Regions from separate parts of the Homo sapiens genome. Here region 1 is linked to region 2. The links come from fine-mapping of genetic effects on gene expression. A gene starts in region 2. The other region holds a variant in brackets. All regions are shown on one strand. Distances are between the middles of the regions.

Region 1 (16,473 bases), 21 kb before region 2:
TGCACTCTGGGTGACAGAGCAGGATCCTGTCTTAAAACAAAAATTAAATGGGCTGTGTTCCAGTTGTCTATTGCTGTATAATAAACTACACCAAATTTAGTGTCAGAAAAAGAATCTATGATTATTGTCTCTCACAGCTGTGGGGTTGACTGGGCTCGGCAGGCAGTTCTCACTTGGGGTCTCTCTGTCAGCGGCCAGGGCTGCAGTCAGTGTGATGCCTTCCTCACTCGCACGCCTGGCACGTGAACCAGGAAGACTCACACAGCGGGGCTCCTTGGGCAGCTCTCTCTATCGCTATGTAACCATCCCACATGGTCTTCCTGCAGGGTGGCTTCAGCTTGGCTCAGGGCTCCAAAGGTCCATGTTGAAATGAAGAGAGAACCAGGCAGGAGCCACGTCGTCTTTCATGACTGGGTCTCAGAATCCACACAGCATCACTGCTGCTGTCCTCTATTAGGAACAGAGACTCTTACTCCTAATGGGAGAGTGGCAAGGTTTTGGAAGAGCATGTGGGACTGGAAATATTGTTGTGGCTATTGTTTTCCTTTTTAAAATTGTGGTGAAATCTTCATGAAAGTTACCATTTTAACTATTTCTACATGCACACTGCAGTAGCAGTTAGTACATTTGCATTGCTGTGCACCATCACCACTCTCTCTCTCTCTCTCTCTCTCTCTCTCTCTCTCTCCAGAATTTCACCTGCCCAAGTTGAACTCTGTACCCATGCAGCAGTAACTCCCTATTCCCCCCGGCTCCAGCCCCTGGCAACCCCACTCTACTTTTTGTCTCTAGGAGTTTCGCTATTCTAGGTACCTCATAAAAGTGAAATCATACAGTGCTTGTCCTTTTGTGTCTGGCTTATTTCACCGAAGGCCAATTTCATAAAATACAATTTGCCACATGTTCTAAGGTCAAGTTGTACCAAAGCTTATTCTGTTTTTCATCTAAAATTACATCCAGCCGCACTATCTAATGCTGCCCATCATTGGTTCTGCAATGAATTAAATGACAACAAAAAGATGCTCCAATAATAAAATTCTAACAAATAGAGAGGGCCCAAATTTGAATATAAACATCCTTGCTGCTATCAAATGCCCAAGGAAAATTAAAGTCCTAAAAATTAACTTTTTAAATTCAGTCCAATGAACCCAAAGTCCAAAATTTTTAAGTTAATGTTTAATGGGAACTAGAGTCCAAAATAAAATTATCAGCCCGGCATGGTGGCTCACGCCTATAATCTCAGCACTTTGGGAGACCGAGGCGGGTGGATCACTTGAGCCCAGGAGTTCGAGACCAGCCTGGGTAACATGGCAAAACCCCATCCAAAAAAAAAATACAAAAAAAATTAGCCAGGCGTGGTGGTGTGTGACTGTAGTCCCAGCTACTCAGGAGGCTGAGGTGGAAGGATCACTTGAGCCCAGGAGGCTGAGGTTGCAGTGAGCCAAGATTGCATCACTGCACTCCAGCCTGGGTGAGAGTGAGACCTTGCCTGAAAATTATATACACACACAGACACACACACACACATATATATATATATATATCTTGCCCTATGAATTACACTTTATGTTTCTTTTCCTTTCCCCCTGCTTCCCCACTGAAAACTTTGTATTGGCCTTTTGGGTAGAAACGGGAACTTTTTTACCAGGAAGAATAATCCTATCACACTTCCACTGGAACCAGCACATGGCCTCCTCTTTGCTGACTCTGTTTGTCCCCAGTGCAGTCTGTCCCACACTTCTTGTCTGCGATGCTAAAACCTCACCTGTCCAGCACCACATTGAAGTCCAGGTCATAGATACCAGTGCTTGAGTCATATTTGATACCTATATCGGTGTGTTTCTGGATCCCAAAACCAAAGTTTCTAGTATCTGAGGGATTATTTTTTTCTTTTCTTAACTCATATTCCTGTACCTTTAGACCTTTCTCCAGGATTGTTTCTGCCTTGGCCCCTCAGAGTGTGCAGTGGACGGCAATCTCTTCATTTCTCCTGATGCTGAAGGATCTGATGCTGTACTTGGCTTTGGAAAACACAGGGGTCTGGCCTGTGAGCTGCTCAGGTCAGTCTGTCTCTACCCTCCCCACACAGATATTGAGGCGAGTTTGTGGATGTGAAGTTCCCAAGTGGGGATCTTCTTTTCACCTTGATCCTGCACCATCATGGAGAATAGGAAGAGCCAAATTTCTTAAATAAAATTAAAATTTAAAGAAATCACTCCTGAATGTTAAATTCTGCTCAGAGTCCTTCAGAGAGGTCCTCGATACCTGGATAAAATTGGGGGTTCTTCAGTAACTTCAAGATCAGACATCTCTCCTAAGAATAAGTGTGGTTCTTTCAGGACCTCAGAAATTAATAGGACACAGGAGATAATTACAACACCACCTATTAACACTTTGGGCTTTAAAAAATGTTCCCAGGCAAAACCATCTTCTCAGTACCCTGTATTTATAGAATTTAGACTCAACTATTTTGTCAAAGCCTACAGGAGAAACAAGATGTTCTGAGGGAAGGAGGATAAACAAAGTGAAGGCCGTCTTGGATCAGCCTTGCCAGAGGACACTCAGTCTGTGGTGGGTGTCTGGAGCCTGCTCTCTGTGAATTTAAACTCAACTGGGAGAATTCTCTCACTGAAAGGTCAATTGTGGCACTTTAAAAAAAAATCCAGTACTCAGAGTAGTTCCAGAGGAGCAGAATCTTAGGATGATTTCTTTGAATTCGTTCTGGCTTATCTAGAATTGATTTTCTGATCTGATTAGATTTACAGGCATTAATGAGCCTATTTCCAGAGGTAAAGAGGGCACTGATACTTTATGGCCTGCAATGACAAGACAGTAATGTAAAATTATTACATTTAGAGACCTGTAATCAAGTTTTATAGAAAGCTAGGCTCTAGGTTACTAAGCATTTGAGGCTGTAGTTCCTTTTAATGAAAATAAGGAGGACATGCTTCTCATTGGGCTGGAGAACATAAGGAAAGAAAATGATGAGCTCGGGACTTCAAATTTCCAGCTCAAGGCTCACATTAAGAATCTGGAAGCTCCAATGACTACTTAAAGAAACCCTAATCTCCTATAGCCACAGGGAAACTAAATCCAAAGTCTAATTTTGTGGGTGGCTGAATTACAAGGCAAATTGAATTTGCAGCCATGTAGTACCTCTTTTGTTAAAGTAAGGGTACTGATTGGGAAGGAGAGGGGCCCTGAGAACTGGAAGGGGATATACGGGGAGATTCCAGTAAAGCTGGGAACTTGAACCCCAAGTTCTGCTGAATCTTCTTTGCTAATAGAAGCAACCCTTCCATCATCTGAGAGGACTGGTTCCCCTTTGTCTAAAGATCCTGTAATAATCCTCTGCAGAACCCATCCCCACCACCTCTCTCTTTCCTAGATTTATAACTAGACTCAAGTCCCCGAAAGCCCCAGAAGGTAAGGTACAAATTATGGATCATGAGGAAGTGTATTAGTCAGGGTTCTCTAGAAGGACAGAACTAATGGGATATATCTAGATATAAAAAGGAGTTTGTTGGGCCAGGCGCAATGGCTCACACCTGTAATCCCAGCACTTCGGGAGGCTGAGGCGGGTAGATCACGAGGTCAGGAGTTTGAGACCAGCCTGGCCAACATGGTGAAACCCCATCTCTACTAAAAATAGAAAAATTAGCCGGGTGTGGTGGCAGGCACCTGTAATCCCAGCTACTCAGGAGGCTGAGGCAGGAGAATCGCTTGAAACCAGAAGGCAGAGGTTGCAGTGAGCCAAGATAGTGCCACTGCGCTCCAGCCTCGGCAACAAGAGTGAAACTCCATCTCAAAAAAAAAAAAAAAAGAAAGAAAGAAAGAAAAGGAGTTTGTTAAGGAGAATTGACTCACATGATCACAAAGTGAAGTCCCACAATAGGCCATCTGTAAGCTGAGGAGCAAGGAAGCCAGCAGTGGCTCAGTCTGAGTCCCAAAACCTCAAAAGTTGGGAAGGTGACGGTGCAGACTTCAGTCTGTGGCCTAAGACCTGAGAGCCCCTGGCAAACCACTGGTCTAAGTCCAAGAGTCCAAAAGCCAAAAATCGTGGAGTCTGATGTTCGAAGGCAGGAAGCACCCAGCATGAGAAAAGATGAAGGCCGGAAGACTAGGCAGGTTAGCTCCTTCCACCTTCTGCTGCCTGCTTCTTCTTTTCTTTCTTTTTTTTTTTTTTGATATATTTGTAATATATTTACAAATATAAAATTCTGACATCACCAGACATAGTACTGAATGTCATTTTCTTGAAAGCTTGCCAGTTTTTGTACATTTTTGCACAAATGTACACGATTGTACATTTAGGCATCATAAGTAGTATCAACACCATAAAAGCATATATGAAATTTAAGATTAATATGCTTTCTGCCTGCTTTTTCTAGCCGTGCTGAAAGCCTATTGGATGATACCACCCACACTGAGGGTGAGTCTTCTTCTCCCTGTCCACTGTCTCAAATGTTAATCTCCTCTGGCAACACTCAGAAACACTCAGGTACACCCAGAAACAATACTTTACATCCTTCAATCCAATCAAGTTGACACTTAATATTAACCATCATGAGTCCACCCTTTGTCAACTTGAACCCATAAACACCTCCTGAAATCATACTTATCCTCCAAATAAAGACAATAATACGGTCATAATTATGTCTAACGTAATACAGCTATTCTTTTACAACTGGAAACACACTAATCCTTAAATGCTATTACATAAAGTTAACAACACTTAAATGCAGGTGTGAAGTCAATAAATTTCATGTCACATGATAAAGGAAAAAGAAAGGAAATAAAATGAAGATATTTTCTTAGTACAAGTGTATACATGCACAAACACGTTCTTAACACAATAAGGAGGAAATACTCATGACAATTACAGTTCTCGTTTCTGCAACTGGTCACGTGGTCGTAGCTGGTATTGATAACTACCTTCTTCTACTACCCACTCTGTATTCCCTTTGCCTTCAGCAAGCACCTCAGTGGGTTGTGGATTTTTACCTTGTGGACTGACCCAAACTTTCATTCCTGAAGGGTCTGGGCCATTTGTAGTCCTGTTTGGATTGGATTGTTGTAGTTTCCCATTGACCTTAATTACAGACATTCCTGGGAGGAAGAGCTGCTGACTCAAGGGGTAAGGGCCTGGCAGTAGAAAGGGCATGTGTGCAGCTACCCCATCCGTTTTACTCTGCCCTAGTGACACCCAGGTTCCCGCCTCTCGGAAAGCCTGGTCTTGTGACCTAGGGGACTTTGCTGGAGGTAAGGTGACTTGCTAAGTCACCAGCTCCTGGACTGACATGCTACAGCTCAGTTCCCGGCAATTATTAACAGTTGAGTCCCCAAGATGCAGGTGGTGATCAGCAGGCCCTAGGCAGCAGCCACTGGCCAGGGAAGCAGACTCAGAGCAGAAGAGGGAACAGGGACAGAGGGAGACACAATTCTGTCTGGCTCTAGAAGCCTCCACTAGATGGTGGTAGGAATGGATTTGCCCCATCCACTTTAGTTTGCAGGTGTTCATAAGCTCCCAGATAAGTTCTGCACATTAGCAGGAGTGGTTAAGAGTTTGTATCTGGAGTCAGATGGGCTAGATTTAAATCCTGGCTCTGACATCTACTAGCTTTGTGATTTTCACAAGCTAATGATTCTCTCCAAGATTCAGTTTTCTTCTCACATATAGAGTGATCTTAAAGGTGTCTATCCCATAAAATTGCTGGGGAAATTAAGCCATATAAAACATGGTGCCTTGCACATGGTAGGCACCAGTGTAAGGCCCCAGTGTAAGGTAGTCATTATTATTATTAGCTTTGATATGTGGGACATATTTTAAAAGTGGCTAAGGGTTTGCTGTCAACATGCAATAAGGAATGTGATAAGATAATTAAGTAACAACAAATAGGTTAAGATGAACCTTTATCCAAATCATCTTATATTATTACTAATAATAAGTGGATAAGAGTTGAAACAATTTAAAAGATGGTTTCATAGAGATTCCTCAGAGGAGCTAAGAACCAAAACATCAATAATGGAATATAGAAACCTATTAGCTAGGCCAGGCATGGTGGCTCACACCTGTAATCCCAGCACTTTGGGAGGCTGAGGCAGGCAGATCACTCGAGGTCAGAAGTTCAAGACCAGCCTGGCCAACATGGTGAAACCCCATCTCTACCAAAAAATACAAAAATTAGCCAGGCATGGTGGCACGTGCCTGTAGTCCCAGCTACTCAGGGAGGCTGAGGTGGGAGGATTGCTTGAACCTGGGAGCGGAGGTTGCAGTGAACCAAGATCTCGCCACTGCACTCCAGTTTGTGACAGGGTGAGATCCTGTCACAAACAAACAAACATACCTATCAGCTAAAAATCCCATTGACATTTACAACTGCTAAGTAAAGAAATATAAGGCCTGGTCACCATAACACTCTGCTTGGAATTACATCCCATTACCAGAAAAGCCTGAATTACTAATGGTAACACATTAGATGACAGGAACAAAATATGAGGCTTTCTCTCTCTTCCTGCACTGAGTCCCCTACCACTGGACAGACTCCATTGACCTGGGCCAGGCAGCCACACAAGTGTCTGGAAGGCCCACAGAACACAGAACACAGGGACGGAAGCCAGAACTTGACTAAGCCTCAACCCCAAACTAGACTGAACCCACTGATGTGTGAGATCACGAGCCCAACCCTAGCAAGCATCCTTTGTCTCCTACTTGGAGGGGGGATGTGATGTGAGACGTAATTTGGAAAACTGAGGTTTACTCCTTTTAAAGCCCTAAAGCTTAAAAACAAACTTATATCATTTTGGGAATGTCTTGCCTATTCTCTTGCCATCTTAAGTATACCATAAGAAACCCAGAACTTTGGGGGGCTGAGGCGGGCAGATCACCTGAGATCAGGAGTTCGAGACCAGCCTGGCCAACATGGTGAAACACCGTCTCTACTAAAAATACCAAAAATTAGCCAGGTGCAGTGGCGAGCGCCTGTAATCCCAGCTACTCAGGAGACTGAGACAGAAGAATTGCTTGAACCCAGGAGGCAGAGGTTGCAGTGAGCCGAGATTGCGCCACTGCACTCTAGCCTGGGCAACGAGAGCGAAATTCCATCTCGAAAAAAGAAAAGAAACCTCTTCAGCTCCTTTTTGATGTGGATGCATCATCACTTTGAATGTCCATGCCATAAATACAGCAGGCAAGAATGTAAGCCTATTTTCCCTGAAACTAAATGGCTCCAAAATACCATTTGTTCAGACATTCTTTCCTTTGTTTTTGCATACCGTTTTACTGTTTCCTCCTTTGCTGATATGCACCAGTTAATATTTTCTGCTTCTTTTAAGCAAACTGGTCAATATCCCTGGCTTTTACCCCATCGTGTGGCCATATTTCAATAAAATCATGACATCCTATTTATGCCTTTTCATTGTAGATGTATTTTCAGGACCACAACAGACCCTGCATCCTGATGCAGAGGGAGGTTTGATTCCAATCCCACCCCCATAATCACAGCAGTGTGACAAGTGTTTCAGCTGTTCAGTATTTACCTTTTTGTTTGGCAAGGTTTGACACAAAAGGGTATTTGGGGTTCTTAAATGTCATTTCTGCCTGAGTTGAAATTACATTCTTTCCCTACATTCATTTTCTATTGCTGCTGTAAAAAACTAACACTAAACTTACAGGCTTAAAACAACACAAATTTATTATCTTACAGTTTTAGAGGTCAGAAGTCCAAAACAGGTCTCACTGAGCTAAAATCAAGGTGTGGGCAGGGCTGTGTTCCCTCTGGAGGCTCTAGAAAAGAATCCATCTGCTTATCTTTTGCAGCTCCTGGAGGTGCCCACACTTCTTGGCCTGTGGCCCCTTTCCAGCTTCAAAGCCAGCAGTGACCAGTGAAGTCTTCCTCCCGTCACATCGCTCCGACACTCACTCTTCCGCCTCCTTCTTCCTCATTTAAGGCCCTTGTGATTGCACTGACCTCACCTGGATGACCCGGGCTATGCTCCCCCTTTTAAGGTGAGCTGTCTAGCAACCTAGTTTCATCCACAGCCTTCATTCCCATTTGTCATATGAGCTAACATAGTCACAGGTTCTTGGGATTAGGACTCAAACATATTTGGGGGACTACCATGCAGCCTACCATAGTCCCCTTTTTATGATAAGCATCTTAAAGTGTATTAATAAAAAACAACTAGAAAATACTGTGAAGCAGGCCAGGCACGATGGGTCATGCCCGTAACCCCAGGACTCTGGGAGGCCAGGGCAGGAGTATCACTTGAACCCAGGGGTTCAAGACCATCCTGGGCAACATAGGGAGGCCTTGTCTCTACAAAGAACTTTCTTTAAGAAAAGGAAAATACAGTGAAGCAAAGTGGAAGGGAACAGTAATTCAACCTGCGTTAGAGCCTAGCTGCACTCATTCTTTTAGGGGTCTGTGAAATCGTTTTGATTTCCATGAGGTGTATTTGCTGGCCATCTTTCAGAATGAACTTTAAAACAATGAGATACCCGTAAACCATTATACAGTAATTTGCTACTTTTATCGGAATGGTGCAAGTTAGGAAACCAGATCATTTATTTTGGACTTGTATCAAAACTTCGCATAACAAATATTTACACGATGCTCATCAAGTGTCAGGAACTGTCCTAAGAGCTTTTGTGTATCATTCCAATCCTCTCAGAACCTTCAGAGTATAGGTTTGCTAAGCTCCTTTTATA[T/G]ATAAGGAAACCGAGGCTTGGACAGCTGCTGCTGCTAATTAGCATGGATTTCCTTTAAAGAATCAACAGTCAAGGCAAAAAAAAAACCAAAAAACCCTCCTAGTTATCCCATTTAAATGAAGACCATAAGCCATAATATAACTGAAACACGACTTGAGAGAGTTTGCAATTATATAACCCAGTAAAGTTTGGGGAGCGGTCCCATTGGCAAAAACTACTGGTTGCTTATCCAACAGCCCCAACCTCACTCTCACCTGGCACTTCCCTCCCAGCCACTTGGTTTTGTTCCCCTCCTCCCAGGCGCCATGTTCTGATGTTCCTTAAGTGAGGCAGAGGGTGGTTCTTGATTGGCTTGAGCCTATCACAGCTGTCTCATTCCTGGATTTCTGAGTGATGGTTTGGACAAACACTTGGATGTGAGTGGAGCAAATGAGATATGAGGGAAGTCTGCAAGAGGATTTGGGGGGAGAGTTTCCTCACTTTCAAAAGGGAACAGATGATAGGCACAGTTCCTTTTTCTATGTAGGGATGCCATTCTATGAGTATGTGATGCTGCAGCCGTGTTATAACCAAGAGCCAATCACTGAACATGGCAGAGCGGAAAGATCGGGAGAACCAAGGTCCCTGATAGTATCACTGAACTTCTGAGCTAAGCCCGGGACTACCTTTACCCCCAGACTTCTTGTAATGAGAGGCAGTAAAAATTCTTATCTTAAGCCAACCTGCAATGGGTTTTCTATTTCTTATGGTAAAAATGATCCTAACTGATACATTATTCAACTTGCCAAAACAAAGTTTTCTCTCAAGGGTAATTCTGAAAATTTTCTGACACAGAACAAAATGTTCTAAAACCAATCATTACCCAGAAAATTGGTGTGTTCTGATACCTGATGCTTCAAAATTAGGGAAGACCTAGATCCCAGCAAATTTATTTCAGGTTTAAAAGACTGAAAACATTTGTTTGGAGTGAGATGCAGGATTGGATACCCTGTATCCGGTGTGGCATCCGCAAATTCTTCCTTCAAACCCAAAGTCCCTGAGGATAGGACAAATGAAAGAGAAAGTGATGGCTGGAACTAAGGTGGAGGGAAGGCACAGAACAGCTCTGCCAAGGGAGGCTGAGGAGGACACTGCATGTTAAAACACGAGACAGAGCCTCTGAGGGCTTTGTTTATTTTATGTATTCTTCTGCCTACTCAGAGATCACTTTATTATAAAATATTGACTACAAAGAGAAAAAAGAGTTGAGATCTGAGTGCTTATAGTAACTCTTCTTTTAAAACCAACAGGGAACAATATTGCTAACAAAACGAATAGGTCAGTTTAATTTAAAAGTGTATCAATGAGGCTGGGCACAGTGGCTCACGTCTGTAATCCCAGCACTTTGGGAGGCCGAGGCAGGTGGATCACCTGAGGTCAAGAGTTGGAGACCAGCCTGACCAATATAATGAAACCCCGTTTCTACTAAAAATACAAAAATTAGCCGGACGTGGTGGTGGGCGCCTGTAGTCCCAGCTACTCAGGAGGCTGAGACAGGAGAATTGCTTGAACCCGGGAGGTGGAGGTTGCAGTGAGCCGAGACCACACCACTGCACTCCAGGCTGGGCAACAGAGTGAGACTCCATCTCAAAAAAAAAAAGTATGTTAGTGAAATTGAGAGGTGACAGCGTGCTGGCAGTCCTCACAGCCCTCGCTTGCTCTTGGTGCCTCCTCTGCCTGGGCTCCCACTTTGGCGGCACTTGAGGAGCCCTTCAGCCCACCGTTGCACTGTGGGAGCCCCTTTCTGGGCTGGCCAAGGCCGGAGCCCACTCCCTCAGCTTGAAGAGAGTTGTGGAGGGAGAGGCGCGAGCGGGAACCGCGGCTGCGGGCTGCGCTTGCGGGCCAGCTGGAGATACGGGTGGGCGTGGGCTTGGCCGGCCCTGCACTCGGAGCAGCCGGCCAGCCCTGCCGGCGCCGGGCAATGAGGGGCTTAGCACCCGGGCCAGCGGCTGCAGAGGGTGTACTGGGTCCCCCAGCAGTGCCAGCCCACGTGCGCTGCGCTCGATTTCTCGCTGGGCATTAGCTGCCTTCCCGCGGGGCAGGGCTCGGGACCTGCAGCCCGCCATGCCTGAGCCTTCCACCCACTCCATGGGCTCCTGTGCAGCCCCAGCCTCCCCAGTGAGCGCCGCCCCCCGCTCCACGGCGCCCAGTCCCATCGACCACCCAAGGGCTGAGGAGTGCGGGCGCATGGCACGGGAATGGCAGGCAGCTCCACCTGCAGCCCCAGAGTGGGATCCACTGGGTGAAGCCAGCTGGGCTCCTGAGTCTGGTGGGGCCTTTATGTCTAGCTCAGGGATTGTAAATACACCAATCGGCACTCTGTCTCTAGCTCAAGGTTTGTAAATACACCAATCAGCACCCTGTGTCTAGCTCAGGGTTTGTGAGTGCACCAATAGACACTCTGTATCTAGCTACTCTGGTGGGCCTTGGAGAACCTTTGTGTCTACACTCTGTATCTAGCTAATCTGGTGGGGACGTGGAGAACCTTTGTGTCTAGCTCAGGGATTGTAAACACACCAATCAGCACCCTGTCAAAACAGACCACTCGGCTCTACCAATCAGCAGGATGTCGGTGGGGCCAGATAAGAGAATAAAAGCAGGCTGCCGGAACCAGCAGTGGCAACCCGCTCGGGTCCCCTTCCACACTGTGGAAGCTTTGTTCTTTCGCTCTTTGCAATAAATCTTGCTACTGCTCACTCTTTGGGTCCACACTGCTTTTATGAGCTGTAACACTCACCGCGAAGGTCTGCAGCTTCACTCCTGAAGCCAGCGAGACCACGAGCCCATCGGGAGGAACAGCAACTCCAGAGGCGCCGCCTTAGGAGCTGTAACACTCACCGCGAAGGTCTGCAGCTTCGCTCCTGAGCCAGCGAGACTACGAACCCACCAGAAGGAAGAAACTCCGAACACATCCAAACATCAGAAGGAACAAACTCCAGAGGCGCCACCTTAAGAGCTATAACACTCACCACGAGGGTCCGCGGCTTCATTCTTGAAGTCAGTAGACCAAGAACCCACCAATTCCTGACACAAAATGATCCATCCAAAGGAATTCTAGAAAGCCCCAAAGTAACAATATGGGTCTTTATATATTAATATGGAAAGACATGCAAGATACATGTGAAATAAAAGTTGCAGAAGTATCTATAATGTAGGGGCAACAGGTAGTCCAGGTTTTCTAGGGACTAACGGGGTTCCTGGGATATGGGACTCTAGTTTTGAGACTTGAAAAGCCCCATGCAAACAGGGACAAACTGATCAACCTAGACAATGACATTTCACTTCTATAATGGTGACAAATATAGTCTATCAATTAAGGTTTTTTCAGGTGCAAAACACAGAAAACCCTGGCTTATTCGACTTACACAATGAGGATGTTTGCCATCATGCCCTTAAAGAAGTCCATATTCAACATGTCAGCTTGGTTCTCTGGCTCACTCCCTCATAGACACAGATGGCTGTCATGGTTCTAAGTGTCCAGTTCAAATAAGGTGACATCCAGCAGAGGAAGACAGGCCAGAATTGCATTGTGGGCCCTCTCTTAAGCCAGCCTTTGGCACAGGAATTAGCTTGGATTTCCTGAACAAGATGGGGTTGTTTAGAAAAGAACAAAGGTAGATGTTATACAGACAGCCAACGATGTCTTTTATGTATACATTTTTATATATCACATATATATATGCATTGAAAATTCTGCAAGAATATAAATAATGTTAATAATTATTATGAGAAGGAACTTGTGCTAGTTGAGACATAAATGTTTGTGATGTTTTTATTTTTTTATAATAAGCTTGTATTATCTTGGTAAGTAACAGGCATTATTTTTTACATTTAAAAATGAAGTCAGCTGGGCATGGTGGCTCATGCCTATAATCCCAACACTTTGGGAGGCTGAGGCAGGAGGATTGCATGAGGCCAGGAGTTCAAGACCAGCCTGGGCAACATAGCAAGACCCCTGTCTTAAAAAAATTTTTTTAATTAGCCAGGCATGGCGATGCTTGCCTATATCCCTAGCAACTTGGGAGGCTGAGGTTGGGGGAGAGATTGCTTGAGCCCAGGTTCAAAGCTGCAGTGAGTTATGATCTCATCACTGCTCTCCAGCCTGGCCTGTGCACAGTGAGATACTTTCTCTTAAAAAAAAATATCATTTAGGATTGAGTGCAGGAAAGAGGATTAATTTCACTCCAGATGTAGATGAGTATAGACAGATAGACTAAAAACTGATGGTGGCAGGAAGAGGCCTTCATCTGTAAACCTAAGTCAGTACTGAGGTAAAGAAATACATTCCAACATGCCATTTTTGTTCTCAGGTCAAATCACACACTGTTGAAACCATATGAGAATGCCAAAACAGTGAGGCAGATACTAAAAAGATTCAGGTGAATAAATTATCATTTTTGTTTTCAGAAGAGTTATCCAGAAAATGTACAATTTGTTACTACTTATCCATTTGGAATTTGGAAATGAAAATTAGTGGCCCTAAGTAGGATACAACAGGTTTGGTACTGAGATATATAAATAGGTTTTTCTTTTTCTTTTTTTTTTTTTGAGATGGAGACTCGCTCTGTCACCCAGGCTGGAGTGCAGTGATGCCATCTCGGCTCACTGCAACCTCTGCCTCCTGGGATCAAGTGATTCTCCTGCCTCAGCCTCCTCAGTAGCTGGGTCTACAGCCGCACACCATACCACCACGCCCAGCTAATTTTTGTATTTTTAGTAGAGAGGGGGTTTCACCATGTTGGCCAGGCATCTCAAACTCCTCACCTCAAGTGATCCACCTGCCTCGGCCTCCCAAAGTTCTGGGATTGCAGGCGTTGAGCCACTGCATACGGCCTATAAATAGATTTTAAAATTTAAAGTTAAATTAGATTTTTAAATTTAAGAGATTATTTAAAGAAATCTTTAAGTAAGTTTTGGCTGAAGTACAGTGGCGCGATCTCGGCTCACTGCAAGCTCCGCCTCCTGGGTTCACGCCATTCTCCTGCCTCAGCCTCCCAAATAGCTGGAACTACAGGCGCCTGCCACCACGCCCAGCTAATTTTTGTTTTTTTTTTTTTGTATTTTTAGTAGAGACGGGGTTTCACCGTGTTAGCCAGGATGGTCTCGACCTCCTGACCTCGTGATCCGCCCGCCTCAGCCTCCCAAAGTGCTGGGATTACAGGCGTGAGCCACTGCACCCGGCCAGTTTTGGGTTTTCTTAATATAAAATACAGCTGTCATTTGGAATAGGTTATTTCTATGACTTAGGTTGGAGTTTCCTAATCTGTACTCTGAAGAAATTTAATACATGTTCCATGAAAATAACAGATGCCAATGCTATTTTTTCCTACCAAAATTTATTCTAGAATAGCACATATGTGAAAAATATTATTTTAATTACGTAGTAGTCTGCCTATACCAGAAAGAGCTGGAACAATCCCCGCAGGACGTTTGCTCTGTACGCCAAGGACGGAGCAGTGTTTACCAAATGCCTTGTAAGCTGATGGCAGCAGGCCCTGAGAGGCACCTACACAGCATTCACTCTCTCTGCCTTCCTTTACAATAGAACCATGATTTTGTTCAAGGTACCCATGGGACCAGCTACAGGACTTGCTTTTTCTCAGCTCCTTTGCAGCTAGTAGTGGTCACGTAACAGCATTTAGGTCAGTGAGATGTAAGGGGATGTCTACTAAGTTGGCTTTCAGAGAAATGTTGTTTTTCTGGTGGATGAGAAAGGCACATTTTGCCTCTTATCCTTGTCCTCCTTCCTCCTGCTTGAGATGCAGACTTGACACCTGGATGTGCAGTAGACAGCTGGTGACCATGAGGACAAAAGCCACATGCTAAGAATAGTCACCCAGGGATCCAGATGAAGCTGGGGTCATTGATGACATCATAGAGTTACTGCATCCGCCCTGGATTGCTCATCTCCAAATTGTTTATCATAGGAAAACAAACACCCCTATTTAGTTAAGCCATTGGTGTCAGATCCCTGTTACATGCAGCCAAATGCAATTCTAATGTATATGTACCTTGTCACATAATTTTAGCATGTGTTTTAGTATCTGTGATACTGCAAAATGCATACTGAGCACTAAACAAATATATGGCACTAACTTGTTCTCCTTAGATCTACGGCTAAAATAAGAAAGCTTTAGATGAAAAGAAGTGTCTTCACTTGCTAGATGATATCTGAATCAAATGCAAATATAGAATACTTTAAAGTAGAGATGAGCAATTGAGCTTGAACTTTCTAAAAGGAAAAAAAAATCTAGTTGTAAATTGCCCAAAATGAAACCATGAACAGCATTTGAAGTAGCCTAATTTAAGAGGGCACAAATATCACACAGCATGCAGCTCTCATCCTCCGTCCCTTGGCTGCAGTGTATCTGGGCAAAGTGGACTTTTCCCAACACACTGCACTGAAAGCGTAGATCCAAAGCTGTGCTTCATACACCTCTTAGCCACAATGATGCTGTTTCCAACATGGAGATAAGTGATTTCTAAAAGATAGAAAATATTTAAGAAATATATAAAAGACACAAAATAGATTTAAAAACTCATTTTAAAAGTTTTATAAGAACGTGTGAGATAAAAGATGTTTTGACTGAACTTTTTTCCTTAAGGAAATTCATCTAGGTGGCCCTTTTCCTGGCCTTCTTTAATACAAGTTTGCATTAGAGCATATGCATATCTGCTGTTGTTCTGTCAAGATTGTATTATTTTTAATGTATTCTGTGGTCAAGTTTAAGTAAGTTTGGGAAACATCATTCTCAACTGACAGAACTCTAGTCTAGACCTAAAAAGAAATTTAAAAACCATAGTCCAAGAATAGGTAGCAGTGTGTCCAAGGAAATCTGCTAATTTTTTTTTTTTTTTTAATTTTTGGGGGCCCTGTGCTTCCCTCCCCACCCCTCCCCTCCCCTCCATTCCCTTTACTTTTCCTTTCCTTCCCTTTCCTTCTGACACGGTCTCACTCTGTCACCCAGGCTATAGTGCAGTGGCTTGATCGTGGCTCACTGCAGCCTCAGACTCCTGGGCTCAAGCCATCTTCCCACCTCCTCAGCCTACTGAGTAGCTGGGATTATAGACGTGTGCCACCATGCCTGGCTAATTTTTTATTTCTGTAGAGATGAGGTCTCCCTAAGTTGCCCAGGCTGGTCTCAAACTCCTGGGGTCAAGCAATCCTCGCACCTCCGCCTCCTAAAGTGCTGGGATTACAGGTGTGAGCTACCACACCCAATCCACGTTAACATTTATAAGGAGAATCTGCTCTTTCTCACTTGTATTTAGCTTTATGTTGTACCTTTTTTTTTTTCATAAAAAATCAGATTTTGAAAGTAGGTCATGTCCGTGGGAGAAAAATTCAAATATTATAGAAGTATCAAAAGCCCTTCCCTGCTGGACTCTAAACGCTGTGAGGGCAAGCGTGTGCCTTTCATTCTCCTCAATCTCTCCAGCCCCTAACCCTGCACACAGTAGGGGCTCGAAGTGGCAGCTCCCCACCCCCACCCCGTCTACTTCCTGGAGACACCCTGGGTTAACAGGCTAAGGTGTAATGCAGACCTGTCTTATGCAAAGTTTTAAAAATAAACATTTTAATTTTAGAATCGTCTTAGACCTACATAAAAATTATGGCAATAATACAAAGAGCTTTCATATTCCCACACCCACTTTTCCCTATTATTAACATCTTATGTTAGCATGGTACATTTGTCACAATTAATGAACCAATACATTATTAT
Region 2 (13,563 bases):
GTAAACATCATTTGTCATGTGTGCCCTTGGAGAAAACGAATGGCGAACCACAGTTCTGGGCCCCTGTGACGTCTCACTGCTCCGAGCTTCTGTGATACTTACCTTTCTACTAAAATTGCACAACTCTGCTGTGGAACAAAATCAAATGTGGAGTCTTTTGCTCTATCATTATTCTTTCCTGTAAAAACAATGTTTTGTAATTTTGAAAATTTTGGGCCGGGAGCGGTGGCTCATGCCCGTAATCCCAGCAGCACTTTGGGAGGCCGAGACGGGCGGATCACCTGAGTTCAGGAGTTCGAAACCAGCCTGACCAACATGGTAAAATCCTGTCTCTACTAAAAATACAAGAATTAGCCAGGTGTGGTGGTACGTGCCTGTAGTCCCAGCTACTCCGGAGGCTGAGGCAGGAGAATAGCTTGAACCCAGGAAGTGGAGGTTGTGGTGAGCTGAGATCGCACTACTGCACTCTAGCCTGGGTGACAGAGTGAGACTCCATCTCAAAGAATAATAATAAATAATAATAATAATAATTTTGAAAACATTTAAATCTACTTAAAAGTTTCAAGAACAGAACAACACCCATATATCCTCATCCAGTTTTACCAGGTATTAACATCTTACCTCCCCCACTGCATCATTCTCTTTATATTTGTATACAATTCCTGTTTGCCAAGCCACCCAAAAATTGTGTGCAGACGCCATGACACTTCATCCCTAAATATTCCTTCATGGTCTGTCAAGAACGAGGCTATTGTCTTAATATCCAGAACACCATTGTCACCCCTTAAAAGAACTCAACATGAAGTTCAACATATAGTCCACACAAGATTTTCCTTAATTCCCTCAATATTGTACTTTTCTTTTCATCTAGATTCCATTGCATTTTGTTGTTATATCTCATTAATTTATTAACTGGAAGAATAAAATATATGTAGATGTTTGGGTCCTATCCCAGAGCTACAGAAACAAAATTTCCAGGGTAGAGCCCTGGAATCTGGCCTTTTCAAATTCTTTCTAGGTGACTCTGATGAAAGTTAACCCTGAGCTCTGAGCTCTACTTGTAAGACGAGTTACCTTTTTCAGGAGTCCATATCTTTTTTCCCAAATAGACTTTAGTCCACTCCAGTGAATTCTTACACCAAGCACAATAAATTCTTGTGAGAACTATAACTCATACTAACTGATACCCATTTCTTCTCCACCCTATCCAATCCCCCTCTCCTCTAATTCCACCAGCTTCTCACCTTATAGCATTGCACTTAGTTGGAAGGACTTGATTGGCAGGCTTTAAAGGCCTAACTCTAGATCTTATTTTGTTCTTTAATGCCGAACTCTGTTAATTCAATGCCCTTATAAATTATTCTTAATTGAATAATATGGTGGGGGAGGGATTGGCTTGTTGAAATGCAGGTTCCAAGGCCCTGCTCCAGGCTCAGGAATATGCATTTTATCAGCTGCTCTAGTAATTCTTACTCCCCAGTTTTGTATTCATTCTATGAGCCGTGCAGAGTGATTTATTCTTAGTGGGAAACTACATAAACATCTCATTGTGTTGTTGAATTAAATCCCTAGCCTTAGAACTGCCACCCACAAAACCCAGACACCAACCTAACTGGTGTTCCCATCTTCTAACTTGTCTTCTTCGGTGCTCTTATTTCACCAGACCCTTCTACAAAGAAAATGTCAGTTATTATGTCTTTAGCTAGTCTCTAAAACCATGGAGACAGACACTTTACTTCAGTTTCATTCTGACTTTTACTCCCATTCTGACCAAATTCCTTTTTTACTATTGACTCAAATTGTTTATCTGAGTCTGCACCTGACCTTTTGGTTCTAGGGGCATTTCTATGGCCCCTTTTTTCTCTTTTTTTCTTTTTGGTTTGTAGGGATGATACTGAGGGGAGCCTAGAAAAAGGATTACTGATTACAAAGTCATCAGTACTTTGATGCCAGTATGCCACTGTACACTAAGTTATTCACCACAGGAGAAAAAGAATTCATTTATTACTTTAGATTTTGTCTTTGCTTGCTCTGTTTGCTAAGTAGTCAGATCTATTTGGAGAGCAAATAATCTTTTTTTAAAAAAAAAATCACATCGTACTTCCTACAAAGTTGTGTTTTGCTGATATGGAAAGAACTAAACTGGCATTTAACCTTTTTAATATAATTGTTACTTCAACTATCTGGTATCTCTTAGGAAAAGTAAAAAGTACTCCAAAATCCAAATTTGCCTGTGATGAAGGACAAAATTTTCTTTTTTCAGTCCATTCATGGCAGAAAAATAACTCCTGCTCCATGATTTTGGTGATGTTCCTGGTGAATCTAGTGAAATAATGTGAAAAATATGTAAAGGTCATCAGATGTGAAGATAGAGCTGAGACAACCTCTTTGCTAGCAGAAGCCGGCGTGTGAGTACAATACACTATTCATGGATACATAAGTATATTGGGAGTGGCAGTCACTTTGACAAGAAAGGAATAAAACTATTGTTATCACTCTGTAAGTAAAAAATCTATAGCCATTCTTTAATGAGGGAAACTGAGTCTCCTTCATGATGGATGATGCAGTCCTGGTTTTAAGAACATGACTAAATCATGACAAAATAACTTTCTTTTATTTTATAAAAAATTGTATGTATTTATGGTGTAAAACATGATGTTTTGATATATGTATACATTGTGGAATGCCTAAACTATTTAACATACACATTTCTGCAAATACTTATTTTTTGTGGTAAGAACTCTTTAAAACTACTCTCTTAGCAACTTGCAAGTATACAATATATTGTTATTATCTACAGTCACCATCATGTACAATAGATCTCTTGAACTTATTCCTCCTATCTAATTGAAATTTTGTTTCCTTTGACCAACATATCTCCAATCCCCCCAATCACCAGCCTCTAGTAACTACCTTTCTACTTTCTGTATCAGTGAGTTCTACTTTTGTATAATAAATTCCACATATAAATGAGATCATATGGTTTCTCTTTCTGTGCCTACCTTAACAAAATATCCTTCAGATTGATCCATGTGGTTGCAAATGACAGGATTTCCTTCTTTTTAAAGGCTGAATAGTATTCCATTGTGTTTATGTACCACATTCTCTTTATCCATTCATCCTTTGATAGACAGGTTGTTTCCATATCTCAACTACTGTGAATAGTGCAGCAATGAACATGGGAGTGCAGATATCTCTTCAACATACTGATTTCATATCCTTTGGATATACATCCAGGGATTGCTGTTTTCATTGCTAATTTTTTGAGGAACTTCCATACTGTTGTCCATAATGGCTATACTAATTTACATTCCCACCAACAGTGTGCAAGTGTTCTCCTTTCTCCACATCCTCTATAACATTTGTTATCTTTCTTCTTTTTGTTAATGGCCACTCTGATACCTGTCAGGTGATATCTCATTGTGGTTTTAATTTGCATTTCCCTGATAATTAGTGATGTTGAACATTTTTTATAGACTTATTGGCCATTTGTATGCCTTCTTTTGAGATATGTCTATTCAAGTCCTTTGCCCATTTTTTAATCGGGTTATTTGTTTTCTTTCTGTTGAATTGTTTGAGTTCCTTATATATTTTGGATATTAACCGCTTATCAGATGTCTGGTTTGCAAATATACTCTCCCACTCTGTAGGTTGTCTCTTCCTTCTGTTGATTGTTTCCTTTGCTCTGCAGAGCTTTTTAGTGTGACATAATCCCATTTGTCTGTTTCCCCTTTTGTTGCCTGTGCTTTGGGGTCATATTTTTAAAATATCATTTCCCATACCAATGCCATGATGCTTTTCTCATATTTCTCATATTTTCTTCTAGTAGTTTAACAGTTTCAGGTCTTAAATTTAAGTTTTTAATCCATTTTGAGTTGATTTTCGTATATGGTGTGAGATGAGGGTTTAATTGCATTCTTCTGCATATGGATATCCAGTTTTCCCAGCACCATTTATTGAGAGACTGTCCAAAGCAAATTTCTAGTAGAGTTGTCTAAAGAAACACCAGAGCTAGGGCAAGTAGTGACTTATGTGTGCTGCGCTGGCCCACAAAACACGAGTATTTAAGCAGTAATGTTACTGTGGATTGAAGATGGCTGCAAATTCTTGATTATTCCCACCATGGAGTGATGGGATCTAATTCTCCTCCTTTGAATTTGGGCTGGCCTTAATGATTTGCTTGACTGACAGAATGAGAAAGAAGTAATGTTCTGGGACTTCTGAGGTTAGGTCAGAAGAAGTCTTGCAGCTTCTACCTACATTTCTTAAGACACTCACTTTGGGGGAAATCAATCACTACATAAGAGATTTGACTTCACCAAGATTGCCATACTGTGAGGAAACCCAAGCTAGCCACACTGAGAGAGCAACAGATGCCCAGCTAGCCCCAGCAGATCCAAACCCACTAGCCAAGGTGCCAGTCGTGTGAATGAAAGAGGCATCTTGGACATTCCAGACTCAATAGATGCAATGTGGGAAAGAAACGAGGATCCTAATAGATAGCCAGAACCTAGGCCTCAGGCAAAGGACCCCAAGTGAGCTGTCCTAGCCATCTCTAGCCATTAAGCCACCCCAGCTTGGGGTTTCAGTCATTGTGAAACAGAAATGAGACCTCCTGTTATGCCCTGTCTGAATTTCTGGCCTATAAAATCATGAGCATAAAAAAATTGGTGGTTGTTTTATGCCACTCCTTTTTGAGATGGTTGTTGTTTTATGCCAGCGTGGTTTAGGCTGGTTTGTTATGCAGCAACAGATAACTGGAACAGATGCTGAAGTGAGCATTTGTATTACTCAGTTATTGCTACAATAACGCAGTATAACACATGACTCCGGAACTCAGTGGGTTTCAATAAGCATTTATTTTTCTCACGCATGGGTCTGTGGGTTGACTGGGGTGTTCTTCTTTAGGCTGTGAGGCAGCTGGGTTTGATCAGGGCTGCAGGCTAAATTCAGGCACACTCCTGTCTTTGTTCTGGTGCCAGGCTGAAAGGGCAGCATCTACCCAAGGCATGCTGGGTCACACGTATGCAGGAGTCCACATGCGATTGTGTGAAAACATTTTGATGCCTCCGCTTGCATCACATCCACTTAGTCCACTAGCCAAGGAGCTAAATGGCAAAGCTCAAAGGCAATGGGGAAGGTAAACTCCTATCTAAGTGGAAGAAACAAGGGAATAAATTTTGGCTGAACAATACTTTAGCCTATCACGGGATCAGATGACAGTAGCGGTAATGCTGTCAGGCTGGATCACTTGTAAGGCGTTGCTATAATTCAGTACTTACGCATCCAGAAATCAGGGAAAACACATATAAGTACTGTGGGGGAAGGTGTCTAACACAGGAATCAACTTTTTTTTTGCACAAAATACCTACAAACAGGAGGCATGTAAAATTATCAAAAGACCAAAAAATGCAAAAGGAGAGGAAGAAAGAGGGAAAAAGGTGGCAGAAAGTGAACCCTTTCATAGAGAGATATAGTAATACCACCAAATGTCACGGAGGCCAGAAGAGGACACCTATTTCTTGGTTTGCCTCACAAGTAGGCAGAATGGCTACAGGGCAGCCCTCTGGAGATAAAAGGCCCCAAGAGACCCTTTCGCTAATTCAATGACAGATATATGTGGCATAGTATAAGGCACCCCCAAACAGTGCTCTCACACTCAGCACCACACGATGTCTAGTAGTTCAGGGAGTTCCCCACTCCCAATTGAGGGTTGACTGACTGTTATTGCAGCTTTGGAGTGCACAGGTACAGCATAAAAAGCTGCAAGCAGCAAGCAGAGTTGGTGCAAAGAGGATTCAGAAAGGCTATGGGAGGAATGTGGTATCTGAACTGGGACTGGATGGAGAGGCAAAACAATGTGGAAGGAGCACACAGCGCCATTTTTGCAGGAGGCATAGAGGGCACATGGCTAGAGAGCAGGCTGAGGCCAGATCATGGTAGGTCTCGAATGCCAGGATGAGGAACACATTCTTAATTCACTGGGAGCCACTGAAAGCTTTTGAACAAGAAGTGATATGAAGGAGTTGTCCTCCAATATCATTTTTCTGTGTTTCCTTAGTAACAGAAACTCCAATTTTTTAACTGGGTGGATGCCTGTGTAAAACAAAAATTACATTCCCTAACGTTTCTTGCAGAAAAGAATGGTCATTTGACTAAATTCTTATCGATGAAATATAAGAGAAATAATGTGTATGACTTTTAGGAAGTGTTTTTAAAGAGAGATGCCATGCCCTCATTGCTCTTTCTTTTCTGCTGGGTGAAAGCTGAACTTTATCCTAACATGTATATTACTCATTAGGAAGATTAGCCTGGGGCAAGGCAAAATACAGGATGGTTGGAACAAGAGGAGCATTGGAGGTGGGAAGACTAATTGGGAGAACATTTCAATAGCCCAGATAAGAAGTGAGGAAATAAGAACTGAGCCAGTGTGGTAGCAGTGGGAATAGATGGGATGGGCAGATGTGATAAATATTGTGAAAGGAATCTCTGTGGGACTTGGCAATTCATTAGATGAGAGAAGGCACCACAGAGGGAAGAATCAAAGTTCGCTTTGAAGTTTCACACAGAGGTGACTGGGTCATCAATTATGTTTTAACCGAAGGGATGAGCAGGTTTGAGGAAGGCAACCATGAGTTTGGTTTTGAACATTTTAGTTGGGACGCCTGCAGGATATTCAGGTGAAGATGTAAAACAGGCAGCCGAAGACTCATTTCTGGAGCATGATTTGAGAGTCTTTTGCATAAACGTGGTAGTCAAAACAAAGGGAAGGGCTGATTGGCAAAACACAGTGTGTGTCTGTAGGAATTACTCTTTCTTCAGTGCACATAGAGAAATGAACTGCATTCTGGAAAGCCAGATATAAATATGTGCAGCTCTTCATCTGACACTACCTCCCCCGCCCACCCCCCCCCCCCCCACACACAATCCTTACAAGTTCTAGCCAATAGCTGGCTGGCTCCAAGCAATAAAATACTCACTGTCTCAAAATTTGGACAGCTCCTTAAAGTTCCTTATGAAGGCATTTTGATTTGCACAAATATGTCATGACATGTTTTAAGATGACTCCTTTATAGCAAGAAATCTATAGTAAATTGCCTTCCTCCTTAATTGAGGTTAGCCACAATTAAGTCTTCCCTTGCCTGGCACAGTGGGTGGTGCCAGCTACCAAGGAGGATCCCATAAGCCCAGGAACTGGGAGACCAGCCTGGGCAACATAGCGAGACCTTGTCCCAGAAAGAGAGGAAAGAAAGGAAAGAAAGGGAAAGAAGGAAAGAAGGAAGGAAGGGAGGGAGGGAGGGAGGGGGGGAGGAAGGAAGGAAGGAAGGAAGGAAGGAAGGAAGGAAGGAAGGAAGGAAAAAGAAAAAACAAAAGACCACCCACGGAAGTCTTTAAAGAACAATTCACAAGCAGAATAAAAAAATATAAAAATATAATAACTGTGATACAGTAAAAAGACTCAGCAGAAGTTTCCCTTGTAACTCGCGTGGCCAAAGCAGATATCAAATAAAAGATGAAATAAACAGGAAATCCATAGAACGTGAACAATAAGGAACCGTTCAGGATGGCCAAACCGCCGTCTGCGCTGTTTTCTCGCCAGGGCTCAGGCCTGGGAACGGAAGAGGTTAAAATCCAGTGGCTTGTGTTTCAGCTTTGGTTACGTGGCAGAAACCAACTGGAAGTGGTGGCGTGAGAGCTCTGTTTCTTCTAGAAGAGCTTTGCGTCTTAAACGCCCATACCGCAGACAGCTGCCTGGCGGGCGACCCAGCCCCATCCTGATGGCCCCAGGACACAAGCCCAGGAGCGCCCCGGTGCGCGCGGTTCCGCGGCCCAGGGGCGCCGGGTTTGGTGGCACAGCGAGCCCCCTTTCTCTAGCGGTATGGCTGCGTTAGAGCCCTAATGAGCGCGTGCGAAGGCTCCCCTTATTCATCCATCCTCCGGTCCGTCCTTTGTCTCAAGGCCGGGGCCTTGCTGGGCACCATGGCGTGCTTTACCGCACAAGCCCCTGAGGACCCCTGGAAGAAGGGATCTTCCGCAGGAGGGGACGCGACGGCAGGACCGCCCCGGGCCCCCTCACCGCGCCCGGCCCCCTGGCGGGAGAGGCCGGCGAGCTCTGGAGAGGAGCGCGGGCCGCGCGGGGCGAAAGCGCCACCCGGGAGAGAGGGATCCTCCCCTCTCCTCCTCTCTTCTCCCCTCCCCTCCCTCCCCTCCCACAGTCCTCAGGAGGAGGAACGCCGCTGCGTTCTAAGTTCTCCCGGGCCCTCTGGCCCCGAGGACTCAGATCCCGGCCGCGGGAGAGGGCCCGGCAGGTGCCAAGGAGCCCGGGCGGTCCTTCAGCCCGCACTTCCCCGCGGTCGCCCGGAGCCGGCCTCCGTTAGCCGGGCGGGTAGGCGGCTATTGGCGCCAGGATTGGCCGGCGCCGCCCGCGCCCCCGCGGCCTCGGGTGGAGCCTCCCGCCCGGCCGCCCCCTGCGGCACCCGCGACACGGGTGGGGACCAGAGGCTCCCGGCGGCGGCTCCCGGCGGCGGCTCCCGGGCTGTGATTGGCCAGCGCCACAGGGGGCGGGACGGCGGGCGTGAAGTGAGCGGGCTGGGGCCGCTGGCGCGCCCTCCTACTTCCCCGTCTGCGTCCGCGTTCGCGGCTCCCGTTTGCATCATCTCCAGCCGGCGGCTGCTCCAGGGAGGCTGGGCGCGATCCTCTCCGCCCGCGGCTCCAACCCGCACTCTGCGCCTCTCCTCGCCTTTCTCGCACCTGCTCCTGCGCCAGGCCCGGAGACCCCCGGGGCGGCTTCCCAGAACCTGCGGAGCACAACTGGCCGACCGACCCATTCATTGGGAACCCCGTCTTTTGCCAGAGCCCACGTCCCCTGCCACCTCTAGCTCGGAGCGGCGTGTAGCGCCATGGAGAAGAGCAACGAGACCAACGGCTACCTTGACAGCGCTCAGGCGGGGCCTGCGGCCGGGCCCGGAGCTCCGGGGACCGCGGCGGGACGCGCACGGCGTTGCGCGGGCTTCCTGCGGCGCCAAGCGCTGGTGCTGCTCACCGTGTCCGGGGTGCTGGCGGGCGCGGGCCTGGGCGCGGCGTTGCGCGGGCTCAGCCTGAGCCGCACGCAGGTCACCTACCTGGCCTTCCCCGGCGAGATGCTGCTCCGCATGCTGCGCATGATCATCCTGCCGCTGGTGGTCTGCAGCCTGGTGTCGGGCGCCGCCTCGCTCGATGCCAGCTGCCTCGGGCGTCTGGGCGGCATCGCTGTCGCCTACTTTGGCCTCACCACACTGAGTGCCTCGGCGCTCGCCGTGGCCTTGGCGTTCATCATCAAGCCAGGATCCGGTGCGCAGACCCTTCAGTCCAGCGACCTGGGGCTGGAGGACTCGGGGCCTCCTCCTGTCCCCAAAGAGACGGTGGACTCTTTCCTCGACCTGGCCAGGTAACACTCTCCACCTCTCCCAGGGCCCAGTGGGAGACGCCAGTTCTCGGATGCCCTCCAGTTCATACACCCATATGCTTATACACTCCTAAGAGTTAATTCTTAGCTGGCTGCTGGTGGCGTTTAACGTTTTAAAAATATCAAAATGACGTCTGGAGTTTTTGCGTGCTGACCACACCTTTGCAAACAGCTGGGGCGCACCGCACAATCGAAAGAGCAGGGCCGCATCTTTGAGCAAGAACCAGTCCCCACCGTTAGGTGGGCGTTTGTTAGGGAAGAGCCAGCCGCCCCGCCTGTTCTTTACTCCTTATACTCTCGCGCTGCTCTCCCCGGTAAAAATGTTCCGACCACGCCCCAGTGGCTTCGCCTCATTTTCTCCCACATGGTGCCTAAAAGCTTCTGGGAGCATTGGTTAAGTTTTGCCTCTTGGGTCATCCGGCTTGCAATCTATGGCCTTCTCTGTTACAGTCCTTGGCTGCGAAGGAAGCTGGCAATTTTCTGCAGTTATCAGTGGACCCACGGATAATAGGGCTGGGGTTAGTTGAGTGAGACATATTGCCCAGAAATATGCCTCTCCTGAGGGCTTGGGGCTTGGGACAGGTTGCTGTCCACCCCAGTAAAGACCACGGCAGAGTGCTGTGTTTCAAAGGCCTTTCTTTGTGCGAAAGTGTGAGTTCTAGAGGGGAGGGAGAGAAGCATCTTCACTTAGTTTTGCCTGCTTTTTGCAATTCTTAGAAGTTGCATTTCATCCTTTGAGATGATGTAGTATCCTTTCTGTGACTTATCCAAAACCTTGGTCTCTCCTGGTTTCTCCATTAGCCCAAAGTTCACAAATGGGGAAACTGCAGCCCGGAGGCATTTACTGATCTAACCAGGTTCAGTTGAGTGAGGAGTCCAGCTGGCTCCTTCTCCAGATTTCTGATGATTTTGGATTCTGAGCCTTGGAGTTATTAATATATTTTGTCTTGAGTTATTGAGGCAAAGCTCCTCATTGCTGAGGTTGTGAAAAACAGCAAACCCTGGGCAAAGTGACTTGCCTTTCCAACTGTTTCCATTTCTCCTTCTGGAAAATGTGATGGCTGTCTGCACTTAAGAGAGAGATTGTTCACTTAAAACAACAAAAATCTAGGACATCCGTATTTAAAAACAAACAAACAACAACAAAAAAAAACCACTCATGAGGGAGACCAAAAGTTCTTGCCAAAAGGGCAGATAGTGGTGGCCTATTAGGACTTTTAAGGGGATCACAGCTTTTTTTTTTTTTTTTTTTTTTTAAAGTCTGGGTCTTGCTCTTTTGCCCAGACTGGAGTGCAGTGTTGGGATCCTAGCTCACTGCATCCCCGAACTCCTAGGCTTCAGCGATCCTCCTGCCTCAGTCTCCAGAGTAGCTGAGATTACAGGTGCACACCACCACACCCAGCTTTTTGTTTGTTTGTTTGTTTGTTTTTTGAGACGGAGTCTCGCTCTGTCACCCAGGCTGGAGTGCAGTGTGCGATCTCGGCTCACTGCAAGCTCCGCCTCCTGGGTTCACGCCATTCTCCTGCCTCAGCCTCCCGAGTAGCTGGGATTACAGGCGCGTGCCACCACGCCCGGCTAATTTTTTGTATTTTTTAGTAGAGACGGGGTTTCACCATGTTAGCCAGGATGGTCTTGATCTCCTGACCTCGTGAGCCACCCGCCTCGGCCTCCCAAAGTGCTGGGATTACAGGTGTGAGCCACCCTGCCTGGCCCCAGCTAACTGTTTTAAATTTTTTTAGAGATGGGGTTTCACTATGCTGCCCAGGCTGGTCTAGATCACAGCCTTTGTTCTGTGACTGGCAGCTTGATATTTGGAGTCCAGACACTTTTTAAGTTTGGAAACTAACTTTTAGGTGAGTGCTGAAAAGAAGTCTCCTGAGGTTGAGAGCACCTTTAGCCTATTACCTGTAGGAGGTCGGTCAGCTCTCTCAGGGAGGAAAGGCAATAATGGGGTTAAAGGATTATTCTTTGCAGGGATCTGTGGCCCAGGGAGGGAGAATGGATGTTCAGCTCTGTCCTGCTATGGTCCCGCACCGGGAGCCTCAATAGGATCTTTTAACTCCAGAAGAGGGGGCAGTGGTGGTAGGGGGTACCTCATTACCTCCTGAAGGGACTTCTTGTTTCCTGATCATGGTTTTCTAGTTTTAGACCCAAGCCCCTTCACCTCCTGCTTCTGACATGGATGGTGACCCAGCGTCATAGCTTAGTAGTGTGGGTGCAACTTTTCAATGACTTGGGCTGCACCTGCATGGAGGGCTAAGAGAGGCTTTGTTGTGGCTTGCTGGGGATAGGTATTGCTTCATAATTCTTCCAACAGCCAACTTCATCTAATCCAGCAGCTCACGGATAAAGGTAGGGCAGGTGGTATATCCCATTTTATGACTGACAAAACTGAGACAGAGATTAAGCGATTTGCTCAAGGTCATGGAGTGGCTTATAAAGAAGAGATTAGAAGGACTGTGGGTCTCCTACCCCACAGTGCAGGGTTCTCTCTCTTTCTCCTAATCCCTCTTCCTCCAAGTCAACATGCCTTAGTAATGTCACCTGCCTAGTCTAGTGTGGCTATCTCAGAAATGCTTTCTCTGGGCCCAGAGAGGAACCAGGTAGGCATATGACTGGGTAAAGACAAATGCTCCTTTCCTCCAGCCAGCGTGGAGGCTGAGCTCCTCAAGTGAAGGAAAGTATGTGTGCACCGCTGAGGTTTGGTCTCAGGCTGAAGCAGCTTGTGAAAGGAAACTAAGTCCCAAGCCACCCGGAAATGCTTCCTGAGTCTGGAGAGTCTCTGACATCAAAATTAAAAAATTGCTTCCTTCAAGGAAACTTCACGGATGTGGATTTCATGTGACTCTGGGCATCTTCTTTGGAAAGGCAGTGCCCCATTCCTTTCTTCCTAGGGGCACGTGAATGAAATGAGACTCTGCCAGTAAACGCCTCAGTTATCCAGCAGGCCCTCTCGAGGTAGCTGCTCAGAACTTAAACACCTGGAAGAGTGGGAAAGGCCTCTGATGAGTCAGCATAGCTGCTGCTGAGGCTTTGTGCTAAAGTCCATGCCCTTTCCTGATGGTAAAGTGCCCCCAAATCCCCCAGGGTCTCTCTGTCATGATTTCTAATTTGGTTTTTAAAGCTGGAACTACAAGTCAGAAAGAGATGAAGCTAGTAGGTATTCATTACATGTGTATATGTTTTTTTAAAATTCAGAATGTCATTGCTGAGTGGTTTGATTTCCCAGCACACAATGGGTTAGAAATAACAATGTAGAATAGAGAATTGGGATGAGAAGGCTGGAGCTAGAAGCAATGAGAAGGGATGGCCAATAGTAGCTGGCAGGTGGAAGAATCATAGTCTCTTCCTGAGCAGCCCGGAGTTCTGTGCCTGGGAATCCAGAACAGTATAGGACTTTCAGAACCATGTGTGACCTAAGTGGTTGACTTGTGGGTTTTTATCCAAAATGAAATGGTTGGGCACCAAAGAGACAGAAACAGGTTATCAGGAAACTAGTCATTGTGGAACTTCTTGGTCCCTAACAATGCTTACTGGTTGTGGGACATGTCCATAACTTTTCCATTCCTTGGTTTCCTCATCTTTATTATGGGAATCATGATGGTACCCACCTCGCAGGATTGTTCTGAGGGTTAGCTGGGTTGTGTCTAAGAGCTCTAAAGCTCTTCTGGGTTCTAAAGCTGTTAGAACAGTGCTGGCCCAATACACCTGTGCTCTTGTTATAAATAGAGTGATTGGGTTTTCCAGTTCACCTGAGCTAATGGGGATGGCCCTCTTTCCGTAACCTGAAATAAATGAGGGTAGATGGGAAGAAGAGGAATGTTTAGGGGAACTCAAGATGACTTGAAGCTAATGTAGTCTCTAGGTGTATTGGGAACCACATGGCATCTGGAGGAGAAGTGAACAGTAACTGACTATGTTTTAGACTACTAATTAATAGAGTCACACTATGGAAAATTTGGAAAGGGAGAGAAGTCAAAACTAAACACAGAAGAGCCTTCCATTCTGAAATGGGACAGAAGTCCCCACAGATTCTCACTGACATTCCGGTTTCTTTTTCCCCTGCCTTACATGCTTATGATCTCCAGTTGACCTCCGCTATAAATTGAAGGGATTGA

Alleles and levels. Alleles are on the strand shown, and positions count from the first base shown. SD is a standard deviation of normalised expression in the study named.
As copies of T replace G in region 1, the expression in adrenal gland of the gene that starts at base 8,656 in region 2 goes down (small effect, 0.21 SD a copy in GTEx).

Evidence for each region. PIP is the estimated chance that this variant, and not a neighbour inherited with it, causes the effect.
Region 1: its variant is the best candidate, but not a certain one, in a credible set for the expression of SLC1A4 in adrenal gland (GTEx, PIP 0.71).

The regions. Positions count from the first base shown.
Region 1 is chr2:64,958,458-64,974,930 of GRCh38, forward strand. It overlaps the pseudogene RPL11P1. Among named protein-coding and RNA genes, the nearest start is that of SLC1A4, 23 kb to the right of the region's middle. The variant T/G (reference allele first, on the strand shown) is at 8,711.
Region 2 is chr2:64,980,744-64,994,306 of GRCh38, forward strand. It overlaps SLC1A4 (solute carrier family 1 member 4), which reads left to right and starts at 8,656. Exons shown (of 8, transcript NM_003038.5): 1 at 8,656-9,427. The coding sequence starts at 8,901. RefSeq lists enhancers at 4,673-4,742, 5,053-5,122, 8,658-9,242 and silencers at 7,966-8,665, 8,876-9,055.